2 separate regions of the Homo sapiens genome follow, and region 2 is linked to region 1. The links come from fine-mapping of genetic effects on gene expression. A gene starts in region 1. The other region holds a variant in brackets. All regions are shown on one strand. Distances are from middle to middle. Region 1 holds the start of ZNF649-AS1 (ZNF649 antisense RNA 1). Region 2 holds the start of FPR3 (formyl peptide receptor 3).

Evidence for each region. PIP is the estimated chance that this variant, and not a neighbour inherited with it, causes the effect.
Region 2: its variant is fine-mapped to the expression of ZNF649-AS1 in lung (TOPMed, PIP 0.98).

The regions. Positions count from the first base shown.
Region 1 is chr19:51,878,378-51,894,656 of GRCh38, forward strand. ZNF649-AS1 (ZNF649 antisense RNA 1) reads left to right here and starts at 9,648. Exons shown (of 3, transcript NR_110733.1): 1 at 9,648-9,749. It overlaps ZNF577 (zinc finger protein 577), which reads right to left and starts at 9,574. Exons shown (of 6, transcript NM_001370449.1): 1 at 8,444-9,574; 2 at 2,302-2,500; 3 at 1,946-2,024; 4 at 12-138. The coding sequence starts at 2,005. It overlaps ZNF649 (zinc finger protein 649), which reads right to left. Exons shown (of 5, transcript NM_023074.4): 5 at 10,858-13,520. The coding sequence ends at 12,241. RefSeq lists enhancers at 1,327-1,847, 8,847-9,698.
Region 2 is chr19:51,789,419-51,805,697 of GRCh38, forward strand. It overlaps FPR3 (formyl peptide receptor 3), which reads left to right and starts at 5,739. Exons shown (of 2, transcript NM_002030.5): 1 at 5,739-5,913. It also overlaps a transcript of ZNF577 not described here. The variant CTT/C (reference allele first, on the strand shown) is at 7,891.

The sequences.
Region 1 (16,279 bases):
GCTGTCCTTACCTATTGATACTAGGTTGATGTAGTTCTCCAACATTACTTCCTTGTACAAGACCTTCTGAGACTGGTCCAAAAACTGCCACTCCTCCCTGGTGAAGCCCACAGCCACATCTTCGAATGACAATGACCCCTATAATAACAATTCCAATGCAATCTGAGGTGGATAACAATAGATGATGCGGAGAAGAGGGACGGGGACATGTCTTGATCCTTTTCTCCATGACAACGTATGCACACCATGGCTATTTCACATACCAAAGGACCATGGAATTCCACCAATTCTGCCTACCCTAAAAGCACGAAGGCAGTACTAGCATAGATATGAAACAACATGTAATAAGACTGTTCATTATTCCTTTGTTTCTCATAATGAAAAACTTACCAATAATCTAAATGTCTATCAAAAGCAGACAGGGTTAAATTACAGCACCTCCATGCTATAATATACTGCAAAAATGTTAAAATCAATGAGGTAGATGTATACATACCCACATGATTATCAATGATCTCCAAGGCAGTCTCTTAAATGCAAAAAATTAAGCTCCCAAATAATATATGATCTAAGACATATTTTAAAAATGTAATAATACGGCTGGGCGTGGTGGCTCACACCTGTAATCTCAGTACTTTGGGAGGCCGAGGTGGGCAGATCACAAAGTCGGGAGATTAAGACTATCCTGGCTAACACAGTGAAACCCCATCTCCACTAAAAATACAAAAAATTAGCTGGGCATGGTGGTGGGCACCTGTAGTCCCAGCGACTTGGGAGGCTAAGGCAGGAGAATGGCATGAACCCGGGAGGCAGAGCTTGCAGGGAGCCAAGATTGCGCCACTGCACTGCAGCCTGGGCGACAGAGCAAGACTCCGTCTCAAGAGGAAAAAAAAAAAAAAAGTAATAATATGGCTGGGCATGGTGGCTCACGCCTGTAATCCCAGCACTTTGGGAGGCTGAGGCAGGGGGCTCATGAGGTCAGGAGTTCGAGACCAGCCTGGCCAACATGGTGAAACCCCCATCTCTACTAAAAATACAAAAATTAGCAGGGTGTGGTGGCACGCACCTGTAATCCCAGTTACTCAGGAGGCTGAGGCAGGAGAATTGCTTGAGCCCAGGAGGCAGAGGTTGCAGTGAGCCAAGATTGCGCCACTGCACTCCAGCTCTGGGCGACACAGCAAGACTCCAACTTGGGGGGAGAAAAAAAGTAATAATATTTATAATTACATATGTATAAGTATACACAAGTATGTATACATAAATGTACATAAATATGAATATATTCTACCAGATGTCAATCACAGGGAGGAACTAGATAGAGACCCAAACTATGAACACTTATTTAGTATCCTTTGGGTTGAAGTTTGGGCAGAAAAAGGGTGAAAGGAGATACTGTCTTTTGATACAAATGCTTCTGTTTGCTTGAATCTCTTGCGTGCAAATGTAGCCATGTATCATTTCAGTAATTAAACATAGAAAAAGCAAAACAAGCCGAACTGGTGCTTTGTTTTTTGAACCTGGAGTTAAGAAGGTAAGAAAGAAGCATTGTCAGTATCTGCATTCCAAGCTGTTACCAAAGAATGGAGCTGTTAATTGTCTCCTGCTGTCTCAATAACAAAAATCTGGATGAGAGAATTCTTCTTCAGGGAGGATCATTCAAAGGTCAAGCAGCCCATTCATTCTACTGGATACTCCAGGCTTTATCACTGGGCAAAGTCAGATGACCAGAAGCCTCTATTTTCAAGGCACGCTATTTTCGAAGAATTTTGTCCAATCCAGTTTTCCTTTGGCATTACTCCTTAGCTTACCCCACTAAACAACAGGAAAAAGCCATAGAAAACATCCCATGCCTTTATTACAAGGCTGACTTTGAGGATACCGTCAACCACAAAAGCTCTCTGAAGGAAAGAAGTTTCTCAAGCTCTCACAGCAATGACAAATTTACCTCCCCTGAAGAACTGCCTTGCTCTCTCCTCACAGACATTACAATCGTGGCATTTTTCATGTGTTTCCTGTTATTTCAGCTGCCAAAAAAAAGGAGACACAGTTTAAAGCAGAGAAAACCCACAGGGTCTTAACAGTCACTTAGCTATGTTCCGACATTAAGAACTTTCACAAACCCCCTGATCCATATATCTTGTTTCTTAATTTGCCAGGATTTTAAGATTCCAACTTAAACTTATTTTCCCACAGATCCTGATTTTTATCAGCATACACTATCTCATTTAACCAGACTGTCTTTTACAAGCTTCCACAGACCCATTGGGAAACAAACGACAAAATAGGTAAAACAAACCTCACCTGGGCCTTGCCCATTTCGTTCAACTCTTAGGGGCTAGCAACTCTAGTATGTTCTCTCTCTTCTGTCTATTCTGGGCCTTCCCAGAAGTGGTGGTCAGGTATCATCTCAGGTCAAGCTACCACTGGAAATGATGATCTTCCCCAGCCTGGAAGCTCCTTCTTCCATTACTGAAAATGTCTTGTTCCTATAGGCCAGAACCTGTGGATTCAAGACCAAATTCAATGATAAGAAGACATGCTCCTAGGATCACAAGTCTCCAATTGCCATCTGGACTCACATTAACATCAGGTTCCAATATTTCATCTGTCTCCTTAACACCCTGGAAGCCATTACATCATGGGGCAGTGATCCAGAGGAAGATATGGAATGTGCAAGAGGAATGCCTTTTTTTTTGGTTATGTCAGAAATAGAGTGGATGTGAAACAGGAGAAAGTAAACAAAAACCACCTATGGTCTTGTCCACTGCCAAGTTCTCACATATATCAGTTTTAGGTAAGACAATGAAGGAAGTGGTAAAGCCAGACATGGTGGCATGTGCCCTAGAGTTCCAGCTATTGTAGAGGCTGAGATGGGTGGATCTCACCTGAGCTCCAGAGTTCAAGACCAGCCTGGACACATGGCAAGACTCTGTCTCTAAGAATAAAAACATAAAAGAAGTGGTGGCTCAAGAAACTGACTTAAAATCACCACCGGCAGCCACATGCTCCTAAATTTTTGGTTTATTGCACTGTCTTACTAATCATACAAACCATAAGCACTGTCTTACTAAACCCTCGATACTACTTTATAAGGTACTCATTATTATTTCCATCCTAAACATGAGTAAGCTGAGGCTTGCTGAGACAACGTGTGTTGTGCAGGTTAACATTCTTCCTCATTAGTAGCATGGGAACTTGAATCTACATCTGGGGTCTCTCCCTTGTGATACTTCCCTCCTACAACAGCCTTACAGTGCAAATTTGTTCTCTTTCCTACCCACTTTTAGAACTTTACTTCCCAGCACTTTACACTGCGGGGTGGCCACATAGTCACAGCTACACAAACAAGGGCCTGTGATCTCCTAATGCAATATTCAGTGTGGATGCTCAGCCTGCTCCTTCCACACAGACAGGAAAGCAAAGGCGGTCCCATCTTTGCCCCAGAAGCAGCAGTTCAGAGATCAGTCTCCCCAAGAACCACTCTAGAAACTCACACTCTGAGAACACCCACACTGTGAGAACAACTTGAATTTTGCTGTCATCCCAGCAAGTCATTCTCAAGACTCTCTAGCAAGCCTGTATCCTTTACACCCAGAGAGCTGATCTCCAAGCCATTTTCTGACCCACTGGTAAACGCACTGGTCAAGATGCAAACCTCCTCTACCTTCAATCCTGAGACCGCTTCATCCCAGCCCCAGCCCTTCAGTCTAGCCTCCCTACAGGACCAGTCCAAAAACAGTGGTACCCAACCCAAATGCAGAAATCCATATGGATAGCTAAGAGGTAGAAAAGGCCATTACGCATGAATGGGTTGGAGCTGAGATCTCCAGGGTTGAAAAATCCAGGATCCAACCATTCCCAGAAGCTCATGGCAGGCTTTCCCTCATACATAATACATCAGAATTGCACCAAATACTCACGCGGAGAACATGGCAATGTAACCGAGAAGGGCAATGATACCACCCTGACTGGTAAGGATAATCTGGATTTCCTACTGAACTGAGGTTCAGGTCAAATGTCCAGAGGACACTACCTAAATTAAAGAGGAATTTTCTTAAGAAAGGGGGCTTGGTTGTCAGATTGGCAGCCAACAGTATCCAATAAAAAAAAAAAAAAAACTAGGGTCTGCTGTGTTGGCTCAGGCCTGTAATTGCAGCAATTCTGGAGGTGAAGGCAGGAGAATTCCTTGAGGCCAGGAGTTCAAAACCAGCCTGGGCAACATACCAAGACCTTGTCTCTACAAAAAAAAATTAAAAATTTGCCAGGCATGGTGGTGCATGCATGTAGTCCCAGGTACTTAGGACGGTGAGGCAGGAGGATCGCTTGAGCCCAGGAGTTCCAGGCTGAATTGAGTTTATGACCGCATCACTGCACCCCAACCTGGGCAACACAGCAAGATCCTGTCTCAAAAAAAACAAAAGGCAAAAAAAAGGCTTCCACTTCAAATAAAAGTTAGGATGCTTCCAAACCATTACAAGCCCTCAGCCTTATCTGCTTTTGGGAGGAATGAAGCAGGGAGGAAGGAAACAGGTGATTTCTCCCATATGATGTCCTACCTTTGGATATGGCTGACTGCTGTATCAGGGTATCATTTTGTGTGGGCTTTTTAAAAAAAATTTTTTTTTTTTTTTTTTTGAGAAGGAGTCTCAATCTGTCGCCAGGCTAGAGTGCAGTAGCGCGATCTCAGCTCACTGCAACCTCCACCTCCCGGGTTCAAGCAATTCTCTGCCTCAGCCTCCTGAGTAGTTGGGATTACAGGTGCCCACCACCACGCCCGGCTAATTTTTGTATTTGTAGTAAAGACGAGGCTTCACCATCTTTGCCAGGCTGGTCTTGAACTCCTGACCTTGTGATCCACCTGCCTCAGCCTCCCAAAGTGCTGGGATTACAGGTGTGAGCTACTGTGCCTGGCCAAATTTTTTTTTTTTATAGAGACAAGGTCTCGCTATGTTGGCCAGGTTGGTCTTGAACTCTTGGCCTCAAGCAATCCTCCCACCTCAGCCTCCCAAAGTGCTAGGATTACAGGCATGAGCGACTGCTCCCAGCCTCATGGTATAGTTTAACTTGTTGTTCTCTACCTACCCAACTCCCAGTTTTTCCTTTTAATTAAGTGAGTAGTTCAACTTAGAGGTTTGATTAGTCCCATGTTCAATTTTTTTAGGTAAGAATCCTTCATGGATGGTGCTGTGTACTTCCTACTGCAACATATGAAGAGGCATGAGGGCAAAAAAAACAAAGAAAAAAAAAGGGGGAGCTGTTATAGAATTAAAGAGATCTAAGAGATACAACAAGCAAATCGAATGCACCCACATCATTTGGATCATGATTCAAACAATCCAATGTTAAAAGACAATGATGAGATGATCAGAAAAAAACTGAATGTGGACTAACTATTCAATGAACTAAAGAAATAGGCTGGGCACAGTGGCTCACACCTGTAACCCCAGTACTTTGGGAGGCCGACATGGGCAGATCACTTGAGGTCAAGAGTTCAAGACCAGCCTGGCCAACAGGAAGAAACCCCATCTCTACAAAAAAATACAAAAATTAGCCTGGTGTGGTGGCAGATGCCTGTAAGCCCAGCTACTCGGGAGGCTGAGGCAGGAGAACTGCTTCAACCTGGGAAGTGGGAATTGCAGTGAGCCAAGATAACGCCACTGCAGTCCGGCCTCGGTGACAGAGTGAGAGTCCACTCACCCAAAAAGATAAGGAAAGAAATTATTATTAACTTGGATACACTGAAAATGGTCTAGGATGGGTGAAGTGGCTCACACCCGTAATCCTAGCACTTTGGGAAGCCGAGGCAGAAGGACTGCTTGAGCCCAGGAGTTCAAGACCAGCCTGGGCAACATAGCAAGATCCTGTCTGTAAAAGAAAAAACAAAAAGGAAATGGTCTAGTGGTTATAAATTTTTTTAATGACCTTACTGGTTAGAGATTCATACTGGGATACGTACAAGTTTCAAGGCATGAAGCCTTGGATTTGCTATGAAAGTCTCCAGACTAAAACAAAAGTGGAGGCACAGATAAATATGACTGATATGACAGATGAATATGAATTGATAACCATTGAAGCTAAGTTATGGGTAAATATTATACTCAATTTCCATGAAAAAAAGTTAGAGTCATCAGAGCCTGATGAGTTCTATCTAATCTTTACAGTACAGAGATGACTCCAATATTATGTAACATTCATCAATCACAGAAAAAGTGAAGCCTCTCTAACAATTATATAAAACCAGCATTTCCAAACACAAATCAATAGAATAAAAAAAAAAAGAATTATAGAGATAGGTGCTTTTCCATTGATTTTCATCCTTCCTTCTTTTCTAATACTTGCATTCAAGGTTATAAATTTCCTCCACTGACTGCTTAGGTTAAATTCAACAAGGGTTTACATGTAGAATTCTTATTAAAATGCAATTGAAAATATTTCCACTGTGATTTTTTGAACTCAGATTATTTAGAAGCGTATGGCATAATTAACAATCATTCTGACAAGAAAACAGCATGTTCTGAATTGATAGTTCCAAAAAGTCACATGACTATTCTATGGTGAATAAATCATTTTGATATTGATTTATAGCTTAATTCCACTATAGTTAGAGAAAATATTCTATATGGTTTTAATCATTTGAAATGTATTTAGACTTGCCTGATGGCCAACCATACGGTGACTTTTTATAAATGTCCTATGTGCATCTGAGGAAAATTATTGAGTGCAGTGTTTTATATTGGTCAAGTTTGTTAATTAGGTATGTCATTCTAACCTTTCAGGGGTTGGGACTATTGTGGGTTAGCTGAATGTTTTTGTAAATAATGTTTTATCAGAACACAGCCACACCCATTTGTTTACACATTCTGTACAGCTACTTTCATTCTATAATTGCAGAACCTAGTAGATGCAGACAAGACCATTTAGCCGGCAGAGACTAAAATATTTGTCATCTGTCTGCACCTTTACAGAAAGTTTGCCAGCAATGGTTAATCTATACCCTTTTAGCTTTTTGTCTGCCTGTTCTCTCAGTTACTGAGAGAAGTATGTTAAGAATTTCCCATTATGATTGGGCATTTGCGGTTTCTCCTTGTGTCTAGCATACTCCATTCCTCTATACTTAACACACTAAGTATATGCTCTATTGACTTTTTTTTGAGATGGAGTTTCATTCTTGTTGCCTAGGCTGGAGTGCAATGGCATGATCCCAGCTCACTGCAACTTCTGTCTCCTGGGTTCAAGTGATTCTCCTGTCTCATCCTCCTGAGTAGCTGGGATTACAGACACCCGCTACCACGCCCTGCTAATTTTTGTATTTAGTAGGGATGGGGTTTCATCATGTTGGCCAGATGTCTCGAACTCCTGATCTCAGGTGATCTATCCGCCTCAGCCTCCCAAAGTGCTGGGATTACAGGCGTGAGCTCTCATGCCCAGCCCTCAATAGAACTTTTATGCACCAAAAGACATGTAGAAAAACGTTCATATCAACAATACTCATAACTCCCATAAGCCATAACAATGTCTCTTGATAGTGGAATGGATAATATGGGGTATAATCATCAATGGAATACTACACAGTAATGAAAAAGAAACGAGCTACTGCTATATGCAGCAACTTAGATGATTTTCACAACAAAAATATTAAGCAAAAGAAGCCAGCCACAAAAGAATGTGTACCTTAGGATTTCATTTATATAAAGATGACAACCAAGCACATCTATGATGTTTTTAAGATAATAATTACCTTTGGAGAGGAGAGAGAAGATGAGGGCTTCTGGGATGCTACATTATTCTATTTTTTTAACCTGGTGATTTTCAAGTATAATCACTTGAAAAAAACTTAAGAGACCAATTTCTCTTATAAATGTATAGGCAAAAAAATTTTTTAACTTTCTACTATGAAAAATTTCAAGCAAAAGAACAGTATACTCAAATTCCACATATTCATCATGTGACTTCAAGAATGACGAACTCACATCTAATTTTGTTTTATCTATACCACCATTCAGTCCCTCTCCAGCAATGGATTATGGATTATTCCGAAGCTAATCCAAGATATCTTTTCATTTTTTGATGCAAAAATATTAAATAAAATTTTAGCAAATAAAATCCAGTCTCATATTAAAAGAACAAACCATTATTGACAAGTATGGTTTATTCCCTCAGGAATACATGAAATTGGGAAATAGAGCAACACAAATCAAAGAAAATTTTAAAGAGAAAAAAATAAATGAAAATAATTGTAATGGTCAAAAGCCCTTAGGAAAGAGAAATAAAAACTTGATAAATCACAGTAATTATTTATTCAGACCATACTACGTACCTAGTACTACACTTTGAACATACTTAAAGAACATTTGCTCACTTAATCTTCATAATGATTCCATGAAAAAGAAACTATGACAGCTTTTTTCCACAAATAAGGAAACTGACTCAGAGATTAACGTACCCAAGTCAGAGGCAGAGGCAGGTACTTCTTACTCCACAGTCCATACACTTGCCACCTGGCTAAAATTATTTGCAGATGACAAAAATGCTCAACTAGAAAAAAGACGTCAATTTATAAGTTATATGTAATGACATGAGTACAATGAAGTGACAGAATAAACATATATATTTTTAACTTCTGTTCTTGTCAACTAAGTAAAATTAGGAACAAAAAAGGAAAGGGGGAGGGGTCTTATGCAAAAAAAAAGTCACGATTTACAACAAAAAGTATTAACTATGTAGAAATAAGCATAACCAGAAATGTCCAAGATACGTATGGAAAAACACTACAGATAGTCAAACAAATAAAAATATTGGGTTAATAGAAATCCATCACATGTTCCTGAAAGTGTTGTATCTAGATCTACATCAATTCTACCCAAATTAAAGCAACCACTTGATGAAACTGCAGCAATTTAAAAAACTCTCAAAGAGCATGTAATATGGGAATACGAAGTTGACAAGATGTTATTAAAGACGAATAAAATTATACCAATACCTAGACACCTGATCCCAACATTAAACATGAAATACACTAAACCAGAGTTATTTTCTGGAGGAGTATTTAAAATGATGGGGATGTTATTACTTGGGTCGCAATGAACCTGAAAACCCATTTTCTACAGAATATACAGCAGCAGGGAAGCAAGGGGACCAGCAGACCCCTTTTTAAGTACGCATGTGATAAGCAATGAACACGAACTGCCCAGAGCAGTCTCCAACACTGACACGATTCGCTTCCCCACCACGACGCCCTAGCGCTACTGTGCAACGAAGACCTCCCAAGCACTGGTTCCAATGCGGAGACCATGGGCTCCCAGACTCTGGGAACTCCAACACGACTGCGAAACGAACTCCGAGCGAGGACTCCCCGAGAGCTCCCCGCAACACGGACCTCACGCGCTAGCGAACAACAGAAAAAAAAAAGCGCGCTCTCCCTGCCCCTGAAACATTCCCAGAAGCCCACGCAGACCAGACCGATGACCTGTCTCCACTGCTGGAGGCGAGTCAGGGACCCGAAGTCTCTAAACACTCGCCTCTACCCGCCGCCCCGCGAACCCCACACACTGCAGACGCGACACTCGCAAGTTTCGGGGATGGCGGCCGGCGAGGGCCATACTGCGTCTTTCCGGAGACACGGAATACGGCACCAGCCGTCCCTTTATGATGCAATATGTCTGCGCCCAGGGGACGCTTGCTGGGAGCAGCCATTTTCAACCCTACTGCCGTAGAGCAGGCGGAGTCCCTCTTTTCGCGCCTTAAGACAGGTAGGTTCTGACGATGAAAAGCAATTGAAAACGACCCATTTCACCCTTTTTCCAGTCCACGTGAACTGCTAGATCTTGGCTTTGCAACATTAGCCAGGGGCGCTACATAAACTGCTTAGTTTCTCAAAGGCTCAAGCCTGCCCTGATCTGTCTACAGGATGGGTAGAGATGGTCACAGACATTTAGGCACTTTGATCCTAAGAAGAATGGAAAGAAACCATGTGGCGCGGCAGTCTTACAGGAATTTCAAGAGGGAGGGACCTGAGCAACAATCGGAGGGGTTATTACTCCTGAGGATGCATCTGGCTGGAGAAAGCAGCCTTTGAGAACTGCCTAAGAAGTATCTTTACATCTACATCAGATGTAGCCTCAGAGGAAGGAGTCAGTCATAGAATGGATAAAACAACCGCGTGTTAAAGCTTTGGTTATAATTGGTGTGGAGAATGGAGAACACAGTTGATCAGCAGTTGACAAAGTGGGGAACCAACACGAAAACAGGGCTCTCTCACCCTGGAAAAGCCAAAGGCAGAACAAGCCTTTACATCCAGGAAGGTGGGAGCAACTTGAAATCAAAACTCTGAAGGGGAGATGATTCTGTTCAATACTGAAACTCAGCTGATCAATTAACTGATGAATTCTAGCACCAAACCTGCTCCCTATAATTTTATAACCAGCCTCAGAGAACCTTTAAAGGGATTGATCATTCACTCATTTATCCAGCGAATGTTTATAAAATGCCTAATGTGTCAAACACTGTTGTGCGTGCTGGGAATACAACAGTTGGAAATTCAGGCACAAAGACTCTCATTCATGGAGATTACATTCTACTGGCAATTTCAGTGTGTGAGCTAAATTGAGTGGTGCTAACTGTTGACTTGGCTGGTTGACTGAAACTTGGACTCAAAATTTGCCTACACTAAATGAAGTTTAAATGCCAGAAATTTCCTCATATATTATAAAGTACCCAAAGATAAATGGAGTTTGGAATGCTAGAATGAATTTATCATGTAAAATCAAGATTACCCATACCTCAAATATGTATTCCAGTAGCATCTAGAAGACAATCTCTTCACTGACACTGATCTGGTCACAGGAAATAGAGATATACTACTGTAAGATTATTTTATTATACAGTAAGTGATATAATGTCCTTGAAGTTAGAATGATAAGTTCATGATTTTCTTTCAGTCAGTTCAGGCTACTAGAAAAAATACACCATAGACTGACTGACTGCCTTAACAAACATTCATTTCTCACGTTCCAGAGGCTGAGGAGTCTCTAGAACTGGACTCTAAAACACAATCAAGGTGTTGGCAGGTCTAGTGTCCAGTGAGAGTCCATTTCCTGGTTTATGCATGGTCATCTCATTCTGTCTTCACATGGCAAAGAGCAGAGAAAGAGAAAACAAACTCTCTTCTGTGTTGTCTCATAAGACACATAATCTCATCATGAGGGTTCCACTTTCAAGATGTAATTACCTTCCAAAGGTCACACTTCCTAATGCCATCCCTTAGGGATTAGGACTTCAACATGTAAATTTGGAGAGGACATAAATATGCAATCCCTCACAATGATGTATGCTATAAAATCTCAAGGAATCAAATGACAAGGATTTACAGTTAATAAGCCAACAAAGGAGACAATATGTAATATAAACACACTCAGCTACTCTAAGGGAAAGCAGAAAAAGAAGAAAAGGAGAACAAAGAAGACATAGAATAAACAACAAATAGTAAGTTAGTAATTTAAACCTAAAAACATCAATACATTGAACGTAAATGATCTAAATACCCCAGTAAAAAGACAGAGATTGTTAACTGGATAAAAAAGGAAGGCCCAACTGTATGTTGCCCACTAAACACCCACTTTAAATATGAAAGCATAAATAGGTTAAAAGTAAAACCATGATAAATAAAGATATGAAAGATATAACAGGGAAAAACCCATGTCAAATTATTAGAGGTTAAAAATTACAATTTCTGAGAGAAAACATACTTTGGATGGGATTAATGACAGATTAAACACTGTGGAAAAAAGATTAGTGAACTGAAAGACATAGCTATGAGAACTATAAAAAATGAAATAATGAAGGGTAAAATAATAAAAAGCATGAACATCATTTTCATGTACATATGTGTATACACAAAAAGATTTGTGAACTTGAACAAGGCAAGAGATACAATCTAAACTACAAAGAGAACAAAAGCTAACCCCTACCTTGGCCCCCGGAGTAAGAGATATCATTCTGAGGAACACCAAGTGGAAGCCTCTAAAACTGCCCCCCTCCCCAGCCAAACTCTATGATCAAGATAGTAAATGAAAAACAATATTGTGGGAGGGGTAGTGAGGTTTATAAGATATAAAAAAGTAAAATATATTTCATATCTTGTAAACCCTACTATACATATTAGTGCAGGGAGCCAAAGGCCCATGGGACATGACAAACTCAGCATTCCGCTGGAGGCTATATGATCAAACAGCAAACTGTTTATCATGAATGCAGGATGTGGGCAAACTCACACTGCCCTGCCACCATTGCCACAGTTACCATATTAACAGGGCTTTTCCCCTGCACATGTTCACTAGGACTTAAGCTGTGACTTGCTGTGGAAGGATTTTCCACCTTCACTGAATCCCCCCGTTTCTCCCTTGAGTGTATTCTCTTATGTTTAACAAGGCAAGACATATAGAAGTAAGCTTTCTCACACTCATCACAGCCATAGGGTCTCTCTCCCGTGTGAGTTCTGTGATGTACAATGAGCATTGTCTTTGTAAGGAAGGCTTTCCCACAGTCACTGCATTTATAGGGTTTCTCTCCTGAGTGAATTTTCTGATGTCTAATGAGTCCTGACTTCTGTGAACAGGGTTGCCCACATTCAGGACATACAAAGGGAGTCTTTCCTGTATGATATCTCTGATGTGCTACAAGGCAAGACTTCTGGCTGAAGGCCTTGCCACAGTCAATGCATCCATAAGGTTTCTCTCCAGTGTGAGTTCGTTGATGTATGTTGAGATTGCCCTTCTGAATGAAGCCTTTTCCACATTCACTGCATGTATGAGGCTTCTCTCCTGTATGAGTTCGCTGATGTACAACGAGTAGTGATTTTCTGGAGAAAGCTCTCCCACATTCGCTGCATTGATGGGGCTTAATTCCCGTGTGAATCCTTTGATGTTCAGTAAGCTCAGATTTCCTGGGGAAGGCTTTCCCACATTCACTGCACCCGTATGGTTTCTCTCCTTTGTGAGCTCTCTCGTGTTCAGTGAGCCTGTACCTCTTGTAGAAGGCTTTCCCACACAAGCTACACCCGTGGGGTTTCTCTCCTCTGTGAGCTCTCTCGTGTTCAGTGAGCCTGTACTTCTTGTAGAAGGCTTTCCCACACAAGCTACACACGTGGGGTTTCTTTCCTGTATGAATTCTCTTATGCTCAGTGAGCTGAGACTTCTTGAGGAAAGCTTTCCCACAGTCAGTGCATTCATGGGCTTTCTCTATGTTGTGTGTTTGCTGATGTTTAAGGAATTGTGACTTGGTGCTGATGGGTTTTCTACTTTCAGGGAATTCAATTTCCGTAGGCATTTGTTCATGATTATCATGGAGAAAAGCTCCATCTCCATTAAACTCAGCAGGCTCCTTTCTGTTGTATCTTCTGCTCTGGTTGGTTAAACCTAAATATGATTTCAAAGTTCTTCCGTGTTCATAGCGTTGTCCCGTCCTCTTCAGTATTTTTTGGTTTTGCAAGGGCTGCTGCAGATGATCATCAGCTTTCTCAATTTCTAAGAGAGAGAACAATAAATCCTTCCATGATCATCACACGGAATAAAACTGCTTCAAAGATGCCTTGGGGTTGGCTGGCTTTTTACTGGAACCCCTATAATACCAACATGGAAGGAATTCCAAGTATAAGTGTTCCCTATCTGTTAAAAAAACTTTTAAGAATTGTAGTTAAATACATATAAGATAAAATTTGCCAGCTGGGTGCGGTGGCTTATGCCTGTAATCCCAGCACTTTGAGAGGCCAAGGCGGGTGGATCACAAGGTCAAGAGATCAAGACCATCCTGGCCAACATGGTGAAACCCCATCTCTACTAAAAATACAAAAAAATTGGCTGGGCGTGGTGGCACGTGCCTGTAGTCCCAGCTACTCAGGAGGTTGAGGCAGGAAAATCGCTTGAACCTGGGAGACAGAGGTTGTAGCAAGCCAAGATCGCTCCACTGCACTCCAGTCTGCCAACAGAGCAAGACTCCATCTCAAAAAAAAAAAAAAAATTTGCCAGCCAGGCACAGTGGCTCATGCCTGTAATCCCAGCACTTTGGGAGGGTGAGGTGGGAAGATCACTTGAGCCCAGGAGTTTGAGACCAGCCTGGGCTACAATAGGGAGACTGTCTCTACAAAAACTTTTTTTTTAATTTAAAAAAGAATAATCCTGAGTAGGGAAACAGCAGACATAGGTAGTAGAATAAATATCCCAGAAAGGCAAGTTAGAATGTTGGATACACAGCCTTTGACTTCATCCTAATCCTATTAGACTGTTGGGTGCTAAAATATGCCCTTCTCCATTCTGTAGACCATCATCACGCTAACTTTCCTAGAGCACCAATCTCATATTTCCAGGAAAACTGCAGTCAATACTCTAACCTTTGTTAAAACAGAGATCACAAGACTGATGGAACAGACTCTTTGTAGCAATAAGATACCAAACTATAAACTAGGTCTAAGGACATACAGGTAAGGGTTAAGTCACACACCCCCTACATTTAAAGAATAAACTATGTTCTAACTGCCACGAGTGTTTTTTGTTTTGTTTTGTTTTGTTTCTTTTTCTGTAGCAGCTAAACAAACACTGGCCTTGGGACAAGCAATATTGAAACAATTGCAGCTCCCGGACCACCAGATGCTGACTAACTGATGCCCCTCACCCCCAACAGCATTCCACAGGCCATAACTGCAGCTATGATTGGACAGGAGACTGATCTCAATATCCTTCTCCTGATAAACACCAGCTGTTTTGGTCAGCTGCCGGAGTCTGTGCAGACTTTTCTTATATCCTGTAAAAGACCTGCTAGCATACAGTCAAATTCCACCTCATTTTAATGTTAAAACTCCACTCCAAAATGAAAGTGGATTATATGTTACATATATGTTTGCTCACTATGCACATGTTTGCTGATTCTCATAAAGATATTCATAAGACTCCCCATCTCTCACTGAATAGGTATGCAAAGCAAATCCTAGAAGGCAAAAAGCCTCCTGCAAGGCAAAAAAAAAAAAGTTTCCCCTCTTCAGTGATGTGTGTTTTTTCCACTTCCTCAAAGTCACACCACTCAGATCTGCGAATCATCTTTTGTTAGAATATAAAGTTTCTCTTTGCCTCCTCAATTTTTTGGTTAACACCTTGTATCTACCTGGCTATGATATATTCTCATATGTTCCAACAGAAAGAGAAACAGGGTGATCCCTATGGACTTTCAGAACATGCAAGCAGAACACGTGGTCCTCTCCACACAGCTCTGCCACTGCACCAAATATGGAAACTGTCACCTTCTTCATCATGCCCTACTTGCACAGATGTCATATTGGATTTTTTTTCCACTTTGCTGTCCCTAATATACTAATTCCTCACCTTGCCACTAACAGCCTCTACTCTCTGAATTTTGTACTTATGTCTCTGTTGGCATCGGTGAATGGAGCCCTCAAGGACCACCTCCCTACTTCTGAATCAAGACTTGAGGCAGCTTTACTTTTAGTTTTTCTTAGAACATCAGCTATACAGTATGATTGCTATAGTACTGCCACCAGGTGAAAGGTAAGCTCTACCTAGAGCTAGAAAAATACAAAACTTTACCTCCACCACTACCCTGAATTACTGGCACAGAAAATTCACAGCAGGAGCTGAACAATAAAAGTTTTACCATTACCATGACGCATCCACTTTAAGTTCCCACTTCACCATTTCCCAGCAAATATCTTCTAACTGTGGCCTCCATGTGACCAGTTTCAAGCTAATCTTTTTTTTTTCTTTTTTTTTGAGATGGAGTCTTGCTCTGTCACCCAGGCTGGAGTACAGTGGCACGATCTTGGCTCACTTCAACCTCCGCCTCCCAGGTTCAAGCAATTCTCCTGCCTCAGTCTCCCGAGCAGCTGGGATGACAGGCACGTGCCACCACGCCTGGCTAATTTTTTGTATTTTATGTAGAGACAGGGTTTCACCACATTGGCCAGACTGGTCTCAAACTCCTGACCTCAGGTGATCTGCCCAACTCGGCCTCCCAAAGTGCTGGGATTACAGGCATGAGCCACCGCACCCGGCCTTCAGGCTAATCTTCTGACAGTCCCCACATGGCCTTGCATTTCCAGTTCTACAACTTCTTGTCATATGTCTTCATCTTAATTCAATACCTAGCTATGTCTCTTGCATAAGATATTTTATCAGTCTGTCTTTCTCCATCTTGTCTAGACCACTGTAGGTTACATTTCTTCTAAAGTCCTACAATTCTTTCTGTATTTACTATTCACTTTAACTTTGTATAGCCC
Region 2 (16,279 bases), 89 kb before region 1:
TGGGCAGAACCACCATCATGGCTTTGCTGGGTGTAGCTGATGCAGCAGCTCTCAGGGGCTGAAGTCAGGTGCTGTAGCTCCCCAAGGGTGGTATTGCACACAGGTGGCTACACTGTTCTGAGGTCTCAGGGGCAGCCTCACCCCCAGGGTTCCACTGGACATTGCCCTAGTGGAGGCACTCTGTGGTGGCCCCATCCCCGCTGCTGTACTGGGCATTCTCTTAATGCCATCATATTGGGGGAGGGACTCTCTGTGGAGAGACAGAGAGTCTCTGGAGACAGCCCTCTCCCTGAGTTGCATGCCTGCGACTCCAGGTAGCACCTTCCTTCAAAATCTAAGGGGAGGCAGCCACAACCCCGCAGCTCATGCACTCTGTGCCCTGGTGGAGATGACACCACACAGATGTAGCCTTGGCTTACAGCCTGTGCCATCCAGAGAAGTGGCCTGAGCCGCAGTCTGGCGTGCTTGAGCCAAAGCTTGGAAGGCCAAGGAGTGCTATACTGGAATATGGGGAATACAATCTTGAAATTGTTTGCCGCCAAAACCTTGAAATTGTTTGCATTCTGTGCCTGTGATGGGCAGGGAAGATGTGAAGATCTGTGAGATGCCTTCAGAGTCATTCTTCCATTGTCTTGATGAATACTATCTGGCTTCTATCCATGCTAATCTCCGTATCAAATGTTCACTTACCCACACCATTGGTGTTCTCCCCTGAACATACTTTTGCACTTTTTACAGGCTGAGAATTTTCCAAATCTTTAGGTTCTACTTCCTTTTTGATTATAATTGCCTTTTTTTTTTTTTTTTTTTTGAGATGGAGTCTTACTCTATCACCCAGGCTGGGGTGCGCAGTGGCGCGATCTCGGCCCACTGCAAACTCTACCTCCCAGGTTCAAGCAATTCTCTTGCCTCAGCCTCTGAGTAGCTGGGATTACAGGTGTTCACCACCACACCCGGCTCATTTTTGTATTTTTAGTAGAGACAGAGTTTCACTATGTTGGCCAGGCTGGTCTCGATCTCCTGACCTCATGATCCACCTGCCTCGGTCTCCCAAAGTGCTGGGATTACAGGAGTGAGCCACCGTGCCTGGCCTATAATTGCCATTTTTTATGTAACTCTTTTCCTGCATTTTACTATAAGCAATCAAGAGAAGCCATGCCACACCCTCAATGCTTTGCTTAGATGTAACTTCCACCAAACATCTTATTCCATCACTCAGAAGTTCTACCTTCCACAAAGCACAAGGACACAGACACAATTCAGCCAAGTTCTTTGCCACTTTATAATGAGGCTGTCCTTTCCTACAGTTTCCAATAATATTTCTCATTTTCATCTGAGATCTCATCAGAATGACCTACTTCTACATTTCTACCAATACTCTGATCATTATTGCAATCTTCTTCTGAGCCTGTAGCAGAATCACCCTCAACGTTACATTCATGGAAATGTAGAGTTTTTTCTAGCACTCACAAACTCTTCCAGCCTCTCACATTACCCAGTTCCAAAGCCATTTCCACATTTTTAGGTATTTCTAATTATAATACCTCTACTTCTTGGTACAAATTAGTCTTTTAGCCCATTTGACCTGCTATAACAAAATCTATTAGAGTAAGTTATGATCCACATAAATTTATTACTCACAGTACTGGAGGATAGAAAAACCAACATTAAGGCTGGGCACAGTGGCTCATGCCACCATAATCTCAGCAGTTTGGGATCGCTTGAGGCCAGGAGTTTGAGAACAGCCTGGGCAACATGGCAAAATCCCATCTTTAACAGAAAAAAAAAAAAAAATTAGCCAGGCATGGTGGCACATTCCTGTAATCCCAGCTGCTTGAGAGGCTGAGGCACGAGAATCCCTTGAACTCAGGAGGTGGAGGTTGCAGTGAGACGAGATTGCACTGCTGCACTCCAGCCTGGGTGACAAAGCAAGACTTTCTCTCAAAAAAAAAAAGGAAAGAATAAAAAAAGAAAAACCAAGGTTAGGATGCCAACAGATTCCATGTCTGATGAGGGCCCATTACTCATAGACAGCGCCTTCCATATGTCCTCACATGGTGGAAGACAGACAAGCTCCCTCAAGGCTTTCTTACAAAGGCACTAATCCTATTTATGAGGGTGCAACCATCACGCTCTAATCTCCTCCCTATGGTCCCGCCTTTTAATACCATAACCTAGGGGGTTAGGATTTCCCATACAAATCTGGGGAGGGGAGAAACAAACATTCAGACTGTAGCAGATGCAGCAATAGTAACTTTAGGAATGTGGAATTTATAAAGAGCACTCATTCTTCCCCATTCCCCACAGCCATCCAGTCTCCAAGGCTGGTCTACTCAGCCTGGACAATCTGTCTCTAAGCTACGCCTCTTCTTGATCACACTATTCCTGCCCTGGGTAGCTCTTCAAGAACCTTACCTTGATTTCTGGCAACATTCTCCATTCTAATATCTCTGTCTCCAATTAGAAACATTCTCAAAGGCATCCCTTTGCAGGACTACAGAACAATATTTTTCAGAAGCACACACCTGACAAGTCACTGTCCTGCTTAAATGGTTATTCATGTTATTATGAAGAAATTCCAAGTCCTTCTTGTAGCATTCAGGACCCTCCAACAGATGGCTTCTGCCACTTGCTACACACTCAGTGTTTATTGCTGTCTGCCTCACCATCTATGCTCCAATAACCGCAGGTAACCTGCTATTTTTTGACCCTTTCCTGCGTGCTTTCACTCTCCTCTGCCTGGAATGTATTTTTTTTTGCTTCTTTATCTGAGTCTTTAAGATTCATCCCGGATGTTATCTGCATTGCACTTGGAAGTGACCCTGGACCCTGTCAGTCTCAGTTAGTTGTTCCTTTTGGGAAATCTCATAATGAACCAGGCATCTGTCTATCACTATATACCCCCACTCTACTGTGACTGCTTAGGGAAATGGCAGAGGACACCATTGTGCACAAAGGGTGCATAAGACTATGCTTAGTCACAGTAGAGTGACGCTGTCACCTCTTTACCTGGGTAGTCGGCATCTCCAGGGTAAGGCACATGTCTGTTTAAGCTCTATGTCTGCAGGAGCCAGCAAGGGAGCACCTCTTCAGAGGCCTCATGCAATACCCACCACCCTTTATTATACTGATAAGTAAATTCCATTTTAATCAGGTGGCAGGTAGCAATGTGCCACTGTCCTAGGAAAGCAATCATGATTGGCCTAAGCCAATATGAGCAACTTGTCTTTTTTTTTTTTTTTTTTTTTTTTGAGGTAAGGTATTGCTCATTGCCCAGGCTCGAGGGCAGTGGCATCATCATGGCTCACTGCAGCCTCAACTTCCCTGACAAAGCAGTCCTCCCACTTCACCTCCTGAGTAGCTGGAACTACAGGTCCACACCACCACACCCAGCTAATATTTTTTTGGTTTTAGAGATGGGGTCTCACTATGTTGCCCAGGCTGGTCTTGAACTCCTGAGCTCAAGCAATCTTCCTGTCTTGGCCTCCCCAAATTCTGGCATTACAGGCGTGAGCCACTGTCCCTGACCTTTATTTTTATGTATCGGTATTTTTGTTATTTCTTGGCCATTGATTGGTCTAGAGATGGCATGCTCTGGCAATGAAAGACAAGGAGAGGTCCTGAAGAGACTCTGGACAAGGTTTCCCTCTGTAATAAAATGGAAGAGGCATGTGAATGAGTCACATTTTCTGCCTGTCTCATGATTCTGGCTCGGGAGGGCCTGTTGATGCAATGTCCAGAACAGTGGCAGCCATTCTGTGGTCACTTTCAAGAAAGCCCTAGAAGAAAACCAATATGATGATGGAGTGGAAGGGTGACATTAAACTCAATTTTTGTTCAAACTCCAGATCTATCCCCTTCCAAAACTTTTTTTAATAATAAATTTCTCCATGGCTTATGTGCTTCATTGGTTTACTCTACCTTATCACTGAAAACATCCAGTGAATCAGAGAGAAAATAGAAAATAGTTGACTCTTGTTTTGTGGCTCTCCACTGTTTTTCATGGTTCTATTCCTTGGGCTTGAGAACAACATTCTGATGGTGTTTAAAAACTCAGAAAGAGCCCATCTCCTTAGATCAGTAGTCCATAGAGCATCTCCCTAGGGGCAGAAGGTTAGGGGGTTAATCTCGGCAATGGTGTGGAGTGTACAGTGTCTCTCATTTACCTTCCTTACCTCTCTACATGCTCCTAGTTACTGCTTCTCTTTGTAACTCTGAGGTATGAAATACCTCAAAGCATATTTGATTTTGTCACAGATTTCTGGCACAGGGCTCTTAAAACCCTTGGAATTCCCTGAGTGATAGGAGTATTATTTGTTATTCATAAACAGCCCCTTTTGATCATAGCTGAGTTTATGCTAAGGAGATCATGGCCTTAGGATGGGACTGGTCACCAGAAAGACCAAGGGATTAGAGGGTTGGAGCTGTCAGCCCCACCTACTGATCTCCAGGAAGGGGAGGCAGGGACTGGAGATTGAGTTCCATAAAAACTCTTGAACAATGAGATTTGATGAGCTTCCACATTGGTGAACACTCAGGAGTGCTGGGAGAGTGGCTGCCTGAAGAGAGCATGGAAGCTCCATGCACCACCCAACCCCTTCCCTGCCATATACCTGCCATATGCCTCTTTCCAATGGACTATTCCTGAGGTATATTCCTTATATAAAGCAACAGATGCAAACAAAGTGCTTTCCTGAGTTCTGTGTGCCATTCTAGCAATTTATTGGTGTCATTGGAACACCCAATTTATAGCCTGTCAGTCAGAAGTACAAGTAGCCACCTGGGACTTGCAACAGATGTCTGATCTGATCTGAGAACAGTTTGTGGGAGTGAGCCCTTTAGCTTTTCGGATCTGAGCTGAATCCAGGTAGACAGCATCATAACCGAATTTTTAATTGCAGGTGGCCCAGGTGGTGTCCCCAGAGAATTGGAGAATTTCTTGGTGTAGAGAAAAAGTATATTTGGTCAGAAGGATTGTGAAAGTAGAGAATCGAGTTTTTGTTTCACCGTGCATCTTTGTTTTTTTATTGTTTTTCCTCTCATTCTTCTCACCTTGGTAATTGTTTCTTTCATTTTCCTGAATCTCTGAAAAGAAAGGGCCTGGACTCTCAGATTTCTTGGCCTTTGATATTTGGAAGGATGAACTCCAGTCTCCCACAGAAGGCTAGAGGTGAAGGAACATTCAGACACATAAGTTTCCAAGATAAATCGTCTGAGAACATCTCCAAGGTGTCTTCTGGGAATGGTAAGAAACCCTGAGTTTGTGTCACTGGATTGATTCCAGCTCCATTGTCCCCGTGTCCTTCAACTAAGTCTCTGCTGAAGCCTGTTCTATAAAAACAGCAAGTAAGTGGTTTGGACTGACCTATTGTACTAGGTTCGACAAAGCAAACCAAATGGAGTCAGTCATACTAAAACTCCACATCACCAAACCAAAACTAATGTATCTGAACTTTTGAGAAATCAGGAGAGAGAGAAAATGGACAAATTCCTAAAACAGGCCAGTTTCAGTGGGCATGAACATGAAGTTCTGTCTGCTTTCATCTTTACAAAAAAAAAAAAAAAGCAATCTGTGGTAACTTGACTTCAATCAATCAGTTGTTCCTTATTGCTGTCTCTCTATTCCTGCTGCACAAAAAAAATGCAACATCCAGATGACCAATCAGGTTTTTGTTCTCTGTTTCTGCTTTCTTTAGCCCTCCTATCCCTGTAAAACCAACTTCCTTGGCTCTAACTATCAAAACACTCATTTTGTTTTATAGCATGACAGGCTGTCTGATTCCATCTTTATAACCAAAGCCAATTAAGATCTTAAAACCAAACATATAACTTCATCTTTTTACAAGTACTTAGAGCCTGAGTTGCTCCACAGGAATCCAGGAACTGGGCACAGGAAAAGGATCTAAGCTGGTGGTAAGTTGGGGTCTGAAAATTTTAAAGTTATTGTTGAAATGCCTGCTATATGACAGAGCCCTTCTAACTCTGGAGTAGCGTAGTCCAGTGAAGAATCCACTTCGTTAGTATGAAAACAATGTTAACTATTTCATTAACAGTGTTTAATTTGGTTACATGTTCCAGTAACATTCTTTTTTTTTTTTTTTTTTTTTTTTTTTTTGATGGAGTCTTGCGCTGTCACCCAGGCTGGAGTGCAGTGGCACAATCTCAGCCCACTGCAACCTCTGCCTCCCAGGTTCAAGCGATTCTCCTGCCTCAGCCTCCTGAGTAGCTGGGATTACAGGCACCTGCCACCACGCCTGGCTAATTTTTTGTATTTTTAGTAGAGACGGGGTTTCAATATGTTGGCCAGGCTGGTCTTCAACTCCTGACCTCGTGATCTGCCCACCTCGGCCTCCCAAAGTGCTGGGATTACAGGCGTGAGCCAATGTGACTGGCCAATTCTTTATCATATATGTAATTAAATAAAATTTATTACTAAAATAATTTCCCCAAAGGTGTTTTACTTTTTTAAAAACAGTGGCTACAAAAAAATTTTGAGTCCCATATGTAGCTAAAGTTAACACATTATATTTCTACTGGACATGTAGCATTGTAGAGATGTAGCATTGAAGGATCTTGATAGTCCTGTGGAGCTTACGTACTAGTGTGGAGGGTATTTAAGAGAGAAGATAAATGAACAAACAAATAAAGGAGAAAAGTATCTGGTGAGATAGGCTGTACCTGAGCATTCTGCTTTGCAGAGTGGGTGAGGTGGGATCTCTCTGAAATAATATTTGACCTGAAATATGAATATTCAGGATGAGCCAGGTGCAGGAAGCTCAAGACGAAGAGCACGGTAGGCAGAAGGAATAGAGAAAGCAGAAGCCCTGAGATGACAAAGAGCTGCAAGTTCAAGGAATTAGAGCCCAGTGGGTGGAGCCCAGTGTGTCTGATGAGAGTGCAGAGATGAGGTCTGAGGGATGCACAGGGCACATGTGGCAGTGGATAAGGGAACCTAGGATAAGGGAACCTAAGATAAGGGTAACTTAGAAGTCTGGAAGCCATCGGAAGGTATTGCGAATAACATCACCATCTTATTGGACCTTTTTAAAGCTCATTTGGTTTCTGTCTGGAGAATGGATCTTAGGGGAGGGGGCAGCAGGACCAGGAAAAAGCTATTTGCAAGGCTTGTGCAAATATCCAAGCCTGACAGGGCCATGGACACCGGTCGTGGAGATGGCAATGGCTCTGGCTGTGCATTCAGCATGTTCTGTAGATAGAATGAGTAAGACGTGGATGGCGTTGGGTGGTGAGGAAAAGAGAAATGAAAGGTGAGTTCTAGATCTGGAGCTTTAACAACTGAATATTTAATCTCCAAATAGATACAGAATATTGGAAGAGTGGCAGGTCTGGGAGGCAGAGAACATCAACAGTTTGGTAAAACCATGTGAGGTTTGGAGTCTATGGGACTCCCACGGGGAGAGGTTTTATCAGACTTGAGTGCCAGGGAGAGGCCACGGCTGATAATTTAGATGAAAAGACAGCATAATGGTTTAATCCCAGAGACTGGATGATATCATTTATAGAATGTGAGATACCCCAACATTTAGAGTCAAATTTAGAATAGAAAACACCGTAAATTGGACTAAAAAGAGGAAGAGAATCGAGCTGTAGAGACGACCAAGAGTGTATTGTGTGCACATATCTCTTGGATATATCTCATGGCATAGGAAAAATGTGTTTGAAAAGGGAGAAAGTGATCCAATGGGTCCTGTGTCATTGGGATATCAGGTCTTAAAAACTGAGAAGGACTCACTGGATTTGGCAGCCTGGGGGTCATAAGCATCCTTGGGAAAATGCATTAGGTGGAGTGCTAAGGACAGAAGTCAATGTGGAGTGGATTAAGGAGAACAGCTGAGGCGAAGAAGGAAAAGGAAGAATTAGAGACATTCT[CTT/C]TGGATGTTTGGCTGGAAATTCTGTCTTACAGACAGACCTTACAGAGAGGTCATTTGGCTAGATAGGGTTGAAGCTGGAAAGAAATATGCTTCAAAGGAGGTTTCTCTTGAAAGAGAGGGGGCGTGATTATGTGATAGAATGATCTAGTAGAAATACAATTTTCAATTTTTTTGGTATAAAAAATGATCTTTTATCCCTCACCACATCCCACCTCAATCTAAGTCTTAACTTTCTCGTCTGTACAATGGTTATACAAATTAAAACTAACATTAATCAATATTCACCGTGTCTCAGGGTGTGTTGAGTGCTTACACATATTAACACATCCCATCCACAGAGCCTATGAGAGGAGTTGTGAGGGTTAAGGGAGAAGCTCTTGGTGTGTGGATAATGTTCATAAGTAGAAGCTACTATTGCTATAAGCATCGTTCTTGTCCTGACCCTGAGCTTCATAGTGCAGGGTTCGGGATTGTACCCCACAACACAACACACAGCCTGGTGAGGGCTAAGAGTTCTAATTTGTTACAGATTTACCGACCTATCCTAGATGATTTCCATGTCTATTCTTTTTTTTTTTTTTTTTTTTTTTGAGACGGAGTCTCGCTCTGTTGCCAAGCTGGAGTGTAGTGGTGCAATCTCAGCTCACTGCAACCTCTGCCTCCTGGGTTCAAGCGATTCCCCCACCTCAGCCTCCAGTCCATGTCTATTCTATTTAATCCTCCCCTGAAAATCAGTCTTTATCAAAAAACCATTTCAGTTCTGCAGAGGGGAAAATGGGGGCTCAAAGAGATGTCACTGATCAAGAATTTACACCATCGAGGTGTCAGAGATAAGATCAGAGTAGAGATCTAACTGACTCCAAAGCCTGGTACTCTTTACACTGTTACAGTGACACCCAACTGGCAGGGGGAGGGGGTGGGAGGTATTTTGCCTCCCAGGGGATCTTTGACAATGTCTTTTGGTTGTCACTCCTGAATGGGGAGTTGCTACTGGCATCTCTGGATAGCGGCCAGGGGTGCCGCTAAACATCCTACTGTGTACAGAACAGTCCACCACAACAAAGAATTAACCAGCCCAAAATGCCATTGGTGTCAAAGCTGAGAAACCCTGAGCTACACTAAACAATGTCCCTGGGAAGACCTCAGTGAAAGTGACTGATAATGATAGGAAAAAAGAAGGAAATGAGTAAAAGAAATAGGAGAAAAAATTTATTATACGAGGGCAGGACCCTATCCTGGTAATTTTGGAAGAACGCCTTTCAATGGCAGCACTTGAGCGTGCAAAGGTAGTGGCTCTGTTCGGTCTGGTTTACAAATCTTCCTGTCTCCACTGACTGGCTAGGTATGATGCTGAAAAAACTACAGGAGTCCCTGGGCCATGGATTCTCCCTAGTAAAAAAGGGATGATGATGGCTGCCTCACAGTGTTATTATGAGTATTAGATGTAAACAAGTGCTACATAATTGCTATCATTCTTAAAGAGGCTAAATAGCCCAGGGTGGGAAGATTCTCAGATTTTCATGATCATAGAAAATTGCTGTAGCTTGGCTGGGCGTGGTGGCTCACACCTGTAATCCCAGCACTTTGGGAGGCCGAGGAGTTCGAGACAGCCTGGCCAACATGGTGAAACCCCATCTCTACTAAAAATACAAAAAATTAGCCGGGCGTGGTGGTGGTGCCCAGCTACTGGGGAGGCTGAGGCAGAAGAATTACTTGAACCCAGGAGGCGAAGGTTGCAGTGAGCCGAGATCACACCGCTGCAGTCCAGCTGGGTGACAGAGGAAAAAAGGGAACCATTCGGACATTTGCCCCTGAACTTGAAGTGCGCCACACCCCACTCCCACTGCCAGTTGCCACCCCCGTCAGCTCTCTTTCTGCCTGTCCTCTTGCTCCTCTGAGTGTGGCCTCCAGATGTCTCATGTACCTCCCGGGGTCTGTGAATACTAAAACCTCTCGAACTTTAACACTGTCGTCGCCTCATTGAAGCCGCACCCACAATCCAACCCACGATGTGAGGCTGCCCGAAAGCGACCTGGGCAGTTGGATCCCCTCTTGATGTTCTTTTGTCCTGACCTCTGGTGGCTGCTGAGGATGGTCACTAGCAGCTGAGTTGATAGAGAAACTTGAAGAGCTTCATTTAATACTACTGGCATAGCAGGCAGGCTTTTGGCTGTGTCTTGGACACAATCCCAATGTCTGTGTGTGTGGATGACTCACGCACTTCCTGCATCAGACAGCCCAGTCGGTCTGGCCCAGACGGCACTACTGCTTGCTGGTGCTCCATTTTGCTGCTTCGTGCAGCTTAGTACTGCTGTCCTCAGCAGTTAACTTGGAGATTCTCCAGAAATTCCAGTGACCGTGGACGGCTCTTTGAGGCTCCAGGCTCCCCAGCAGCTGCAGGAGGGCAGATCCTATTGTAATGAGGGTGTTTCCCTGTGGGACATCAGAAACCCTTTCTGGGATCAGGCCCCTGACAGGGGGCCACTACTGGAGGGCATGTTGCCCCTTGAGCCATACATGCTTCTCTGGTGACCTAGGGCCTCGGTAGTGGTCCGGCCTGTATTGGCTCTAAGTAGCAAAGTACTGGCCTCCAGCCAGAGAGAGCTGGCCAGGATGCTGAGCTGGCCACCCGGTAGCCCATGGCTCGATCCTCAGCTCTACCTCCATCTTGCTGATGATAGGGCCATGGGCCACCAGGCTCCTGGGGAGCAGCGATTCCACCATAGTGAAGTTGAAGAGGATGACAGAATGCTGGCTTCAGTGTGTCAGTGAAGGGGAGCTGGGTGAAAGGGTCCAGTCGCCTAACTCTAACCTGTGACACGGCAACTGCACCTGAGTCCCCAGGGCACCTTGCAAGAGCCGGTGCTGCTGAGGCCAGTGCCTCCTTGGTTGCTGCATTCCTTGGTGCTATCACTTCTCGTTCTCCCAGCCCCTCAGAGGTCGATCGGGTCACCCTGGAAAGAAAAGCGGCTGCCTACAAGGCCAGTGCAAGTGGAGCTCATTGTTCGGTTTTGAAGAGAAAGTGAGATTAAAGAAAGACACACAAAGACAGAGTGTCTCAACAGCAAATGCAGGCATTTATGTCCAGTATAAACCTGCAGAGGTGCCAGTGCCCACCACTGCTTACAGGCTGGGGCAATTACAGGCCTGGGTGGGAGAGGTCTGGAAGTGGAGCATGGCCCGTTGCCTGGGAAAATGTTGATAACATGTTCCCATGATGAGGCGGTTTGGCACTTGTTCCTGCAGAATGTGATAGTGATGTTCCTTGGGCCTTTGCCCGGCAGAGTGTGATAAGGATGTTCGTGTGCCTTGTGGTCAGGTGGTTGGGCAGGATGTTTCTCATGGCCCGAAACCCCATGGAATGTTTCACTTTGACCAAAGTCTGCAAAATGGTGGGGGGCTTACAAAGTGGTGCAGTTTGGACTAACTCTCAATACCATTTTTTTTTCTTTTTTGGTAACAATGTGTAAAGTGAAAACAGCAGAGTGCTACTCCATACCACTGGGATCTTGTCCAGTAAACATCCAGAGAGTGAGGTTAGGAAATAAAAAGTATATAAATATTAGATGCCTAGAAATGCAAGTCACTTTAAAGATTTTATGTGAAATAGAAAAAAAAGAGAGGAGAGGGACTCATTGTCTTGTAATGGGTCCTTCCCAGAGAGAGGTGACTGTCCAGTGGCACCGGGCCCTTTTCCTCCTTCCCCTTTTACTCTTATCAACTAGGACAGAAACTAAGAATTTTGGCTTCAAGTGGCTAAAAGACTGATGGGGGAAAAAAGAAAATAGAAAAAAATAACAGAGAGACTGACGCTCTAGGCAGTTACAAGTCCAAGAAAAAAGACAGAAACTTTTAACTTTAAGTATTGAGCCAAAACCAGGTCTAGCAAACATAATGCTGGCCCTAGATTATTTATTAATTTATGAAGAAACTTCTAGATATGGGGGTGACAAAAGGAAATTAAATCCATTATATATGCATATATTTTAATGTAAATATATAATAGATAAATTATGTATACATAATATAGAACCAAATTGAAACAGTTTTACAATTTGGTTTGACTGGAAATTCAAAATCCATATATTAATTTTTGTAGTAAAAGTTTATGTAAAAAAAGACAAAAAGGACACTGATTGGCTTTTGTTCCTCTACAATATAGGTTCTAACTTAACTTCTAACATTAGCGGCCGGACGCGGTGGCTCACGCCCGTAATCCCAGCACTTTAGGAGGCCGAAGTGGGCAGATCACCTGAGGTCAAGAGTTCGAGATCAGCCTGGCCAACATGGTGAAACCCCATCTCTACTAAAAGTACAGAAATTAACCGGGCGTGATGCTGGGTGCCTGTAATCCCAGCTACTCAGGAGGCTGAGGCAGGACAATTGCTTGAACCTGGGAGGTGGAGGTTGCAGTGAGCCGAGATTGTGCTACTGCACTCCAGCTGCACGAATTGACAAAATTTATGGACTTCATAGTGGGATTCAAATTATAGTTATACATAGGGATCTCATTAAATTTACTTACTCTACTCCCATAATCTTGAGAAGCTAACTAAAATTTTGAAAAATGAGTAGACCTCACTTTATCTGTAGCGTCGCCTAAATTTCCCAGTCATACAGTCATTGCTCTAAAATATTCTATGTTGGACATAGATTCTGTGACACAATTAATAACAAATTAAAATTAAAGTAAGCTTTTGGCACTTACAAATTGGCTTGATCAAATGAGGCCCCTTAGTCCCCCAGTTAAGATAATTTATTACGGCCCAATAGAAGTTGAAACAGCACCTTCAAGGATTAAAATTTATTATATAAAACCGAATTAATAAAAGCGTGATTATCGACACCACATCTCCATTTAGCAACCCAAAAGTTCTTCCTGTTCCCAAATCTGAAAAAAAAAAAATTCGTAAAAATGCCTTACGATGGATGACTACAGCAGACGGGCTGTTGAGGGCTGCCTCAGCTCTTCAGCCCAGACCAGTGACAGAGCTACCAACACTGCTTCACCTCCTGCAGAGGTAGAGGTACAGGCAATGAGAGGAGGGGGTCAGGGATATTTTTTAGCCCTTTCTCATCCTACCCTCATGCCAGTCCCAGCTTTATCTACCCTTGAGTCATATTAAGCCATTCAAGGATGAGTGGATGAAGTTTTTAATCAGGAAAAAATACTTCCATGCCCCCCAATTTGAGAGTAAGAAATAGAAAATGAGGCTATTGTGGGTGTCATTTCTAATTTCTGGACCTCAGCCTGTACCCTGGGGTAAGTGGAAGTGGAAAAAAACTACAAGAAAACAGAAAGAGTGGTGGGGATTTGTAAGGCTTGGATGAGATAGTATATATTAAAGGGAAAACTTAATTACTTTACCCTTAAGTGTAATGTTTGCTGTCACCTTTTTGTATCTTTCTCTTTTTAATCAGACTGTTGAAGGTGTCTTCTATTCTTACTTTTTAAGAGTTCTCTTCTTCTATTGCTTAAATTATGAATGGATGTTAAATGTTTTCAAATGTAATATCTGCCAATATTAACATGATTATTTTTATTCTTTCATTTACATCGTTACAGATTATTTTATTGTATACAACTGTATACAAACTTCATATGGTTCCTTTCATATAATAAGAATGTAAGCTGTCTGAGGGCAGGAATTGTGGTCTGTATTGCTTACAGATGAATCCTCACCCTCTATGTGTAAAATAGTGTCTGACATGTGGTAGGCACTCAATAAATACTGAATTAATGAATCAATAAATAGTGTCACCTAGATATTTAAGTGAGAAACATTTGATGTCTAATTAAAATTATCTCTGTTACAAATTATTTTATTAAATTAAATTAATTTAACTAAAATTAAAATAACGTGAACCAAGTCATGTCTAGTAAATTCTCATCCTCATGTGCGCAATATTTATAAATTCCCAGGTGGCTTCCATTTTCATGAACACCTTAAATTTTGAGTTTCCACTTCAATACAGTACTCTCACTAACAACTGCCTAATGACTTTGTATTTAAATAAATAAACTCATAACTCAGCCCTTTACCTTGCTTTCTCCACAAAAACACTCAGAAATTGTCAATTTTGTATTGTGTAACATACTTTCCTGATGCACTGGCAAAAGACACCACTCAACATGAATACCAAGGAATCCTGTTATCAATGTCCTCTCTCACTCCACTGCTTTACTCATTCTTCTCGTCTTCTCTAGAGTTCTGTGCATTTCCAAGGCAGAGCAGTTTGACCATTTCATTCACACTTTTGACTCCTATAAATGCTTTCAATTTCCAAAAAAAAAAAAAAAATGTATATTCTTTAATGCCCAACTAAGTTGTGGCCATAGAAAATGAGGAACAATGAAAAAAATGCAAGACAGAAAGTCAGGAGCCACGAAGGACAGCGTGAGACCTCTAGATAGGAGAGCCAGGGCTTCCAGATGGGCTAATTAATAGACTCCCTCTACTGCCAGGACAGGGGATTCTTACCTTTCCTTCCCACTGGCCTTGGTTAATTGCAGTAGAACAGTGTCCGCTACATCTCCCTTTTTTCTTTTCCTCATTAGGAGTTTCCATTGTGGATTCCCAATTCTCATTGCATCGTGGTATATTGGGGCTTTGAAGCTAAGTATTCTTTTAAGTTATGGGACACTTATCACAAAGAAACTTCAACATAAAACGTTGGGGATCTCATCCTTGGGAAGGATGGCTCTACTTCTTCTATTTGGAAGAAGAGTGTAAAGGGATCTTGAGTACCTGAAGGCATAATTCTGGCCAAGACTGACAGCTGCCTAACCAACATTAATCACCCTTCTTCACTGCAGTGAATGCTTATAAGGGTCTGTTGCCTCGGCATCCAGTCTAAATACAAGCTTAATTTTCTCATACGAGGCTCAGGGCTCAGTCACCCTTGACACAGTTTCCAGTTCTACACCACAGTCACGAGTACAAGAAAAAAAAAAGAGGAACTTTAAATTTAAGTACTGGGCAGAATCCAGATCTAGGAAACGTAATCCTAGCCCTGGAATACTTACTGATTTATGAACAAACTTCTAATGGGAGGGTGATAAAAAGGAAATTAAATACATCATATGTATATATGTATATAATATTTTAATGTAAACATAGGACAAATAGGTGAATTATGTACATTTAATATATAACCGCATCAAAACAAAGTTTTACAATTTGATTTGATTGGGAATTCAAAATTCATATATTAATTTTTATACCAAAAAAATTATGTAACAAAAGGATAAAAAGGCACTGATTTGGTTTTGTGCCTTTACAACATAGGTACTAACTTAACTTCAACAACAGCAAAAATGCTCAAATTGACAAAAATTTATGGACTTTACATTGGGGCTCAAATTATAGTTATATATGAGGATCTATCGAGCACCCGATTCTGTGGCTGTTCGGGGCGCCACTATGTAACCTGCCATGATCCCTGGTGGACTGAACAAAGGGGGGTGAATGCAGGAATAAAAGACAAGAGACAAAAGAGTATATTTGGAAGAAGGGGTCCGGGGGCACCTTGCCTCTAGTGGACAAGGCCCTGAGCTTTACACGGCCCTCTGTATTTATTAGAGAAAAGCGATAGTGAGAAGGGGGGTGGAAGAAGAGGTCAGTTGGTTGGTCCAGAGTAGGCTTGCAAGACTGCATTCTCTAGATGTTCCAGTAGATAACTTCAAAGAGCTTGGCGTCAGGAAGCGATTGCCCTCAGCAAACCTTCTGGCGGCAGGCACAGTCGTGAGTTTGCTCACATCCTGTATTCATGATAAACAGTTTGCTGTTTGATCATATAGCCTCCAGTGGAATGCTGAGTTGGTCACGTCCCATGGGCCTTCGGCTCCCTGCATATCCCCCTGTTTATGAATTAATTGAAAGAATGTAAGACCAGGCTGGGCAGCTCTCATTCTCCGATTGGCGGTCCATCCGATTTTACAGACTATAAACAGAAGACAGAGACAAAACAACATTACTCCAAGAACTACATATAAGATGTTACTGTGGTACTTTAGATAGGTCCAAGGGTTGAGGCTCTCCAGGCCTTCCTGGAATTCAGTCCAGTCTTCTAAAGAAGGCTGAAATTCTTGAGTGTGCCTATTTAAATCAAGAATTTTGTTTTGTAATTCACTAATATCAAAGGTGATGTTGGATGTGAAAGCTCCTTGCAAATGGGCTTTCACAAGGTCCCACGGATACTCACTTTTGTTATATTCTAAGTTGGTTACACAAATACGAGTGTGATTAAAATGACAGCGCAATTGCCGCTGCAACTGCAAGCTTTATACTTGTTCCCCTAACCACAGAACCATGGATTTCAACATTGCCACTTCAGTTTGTAACTCAGTGTTAATTTTATTCTGAAGTAGCCTCGCTTGGTTGGCT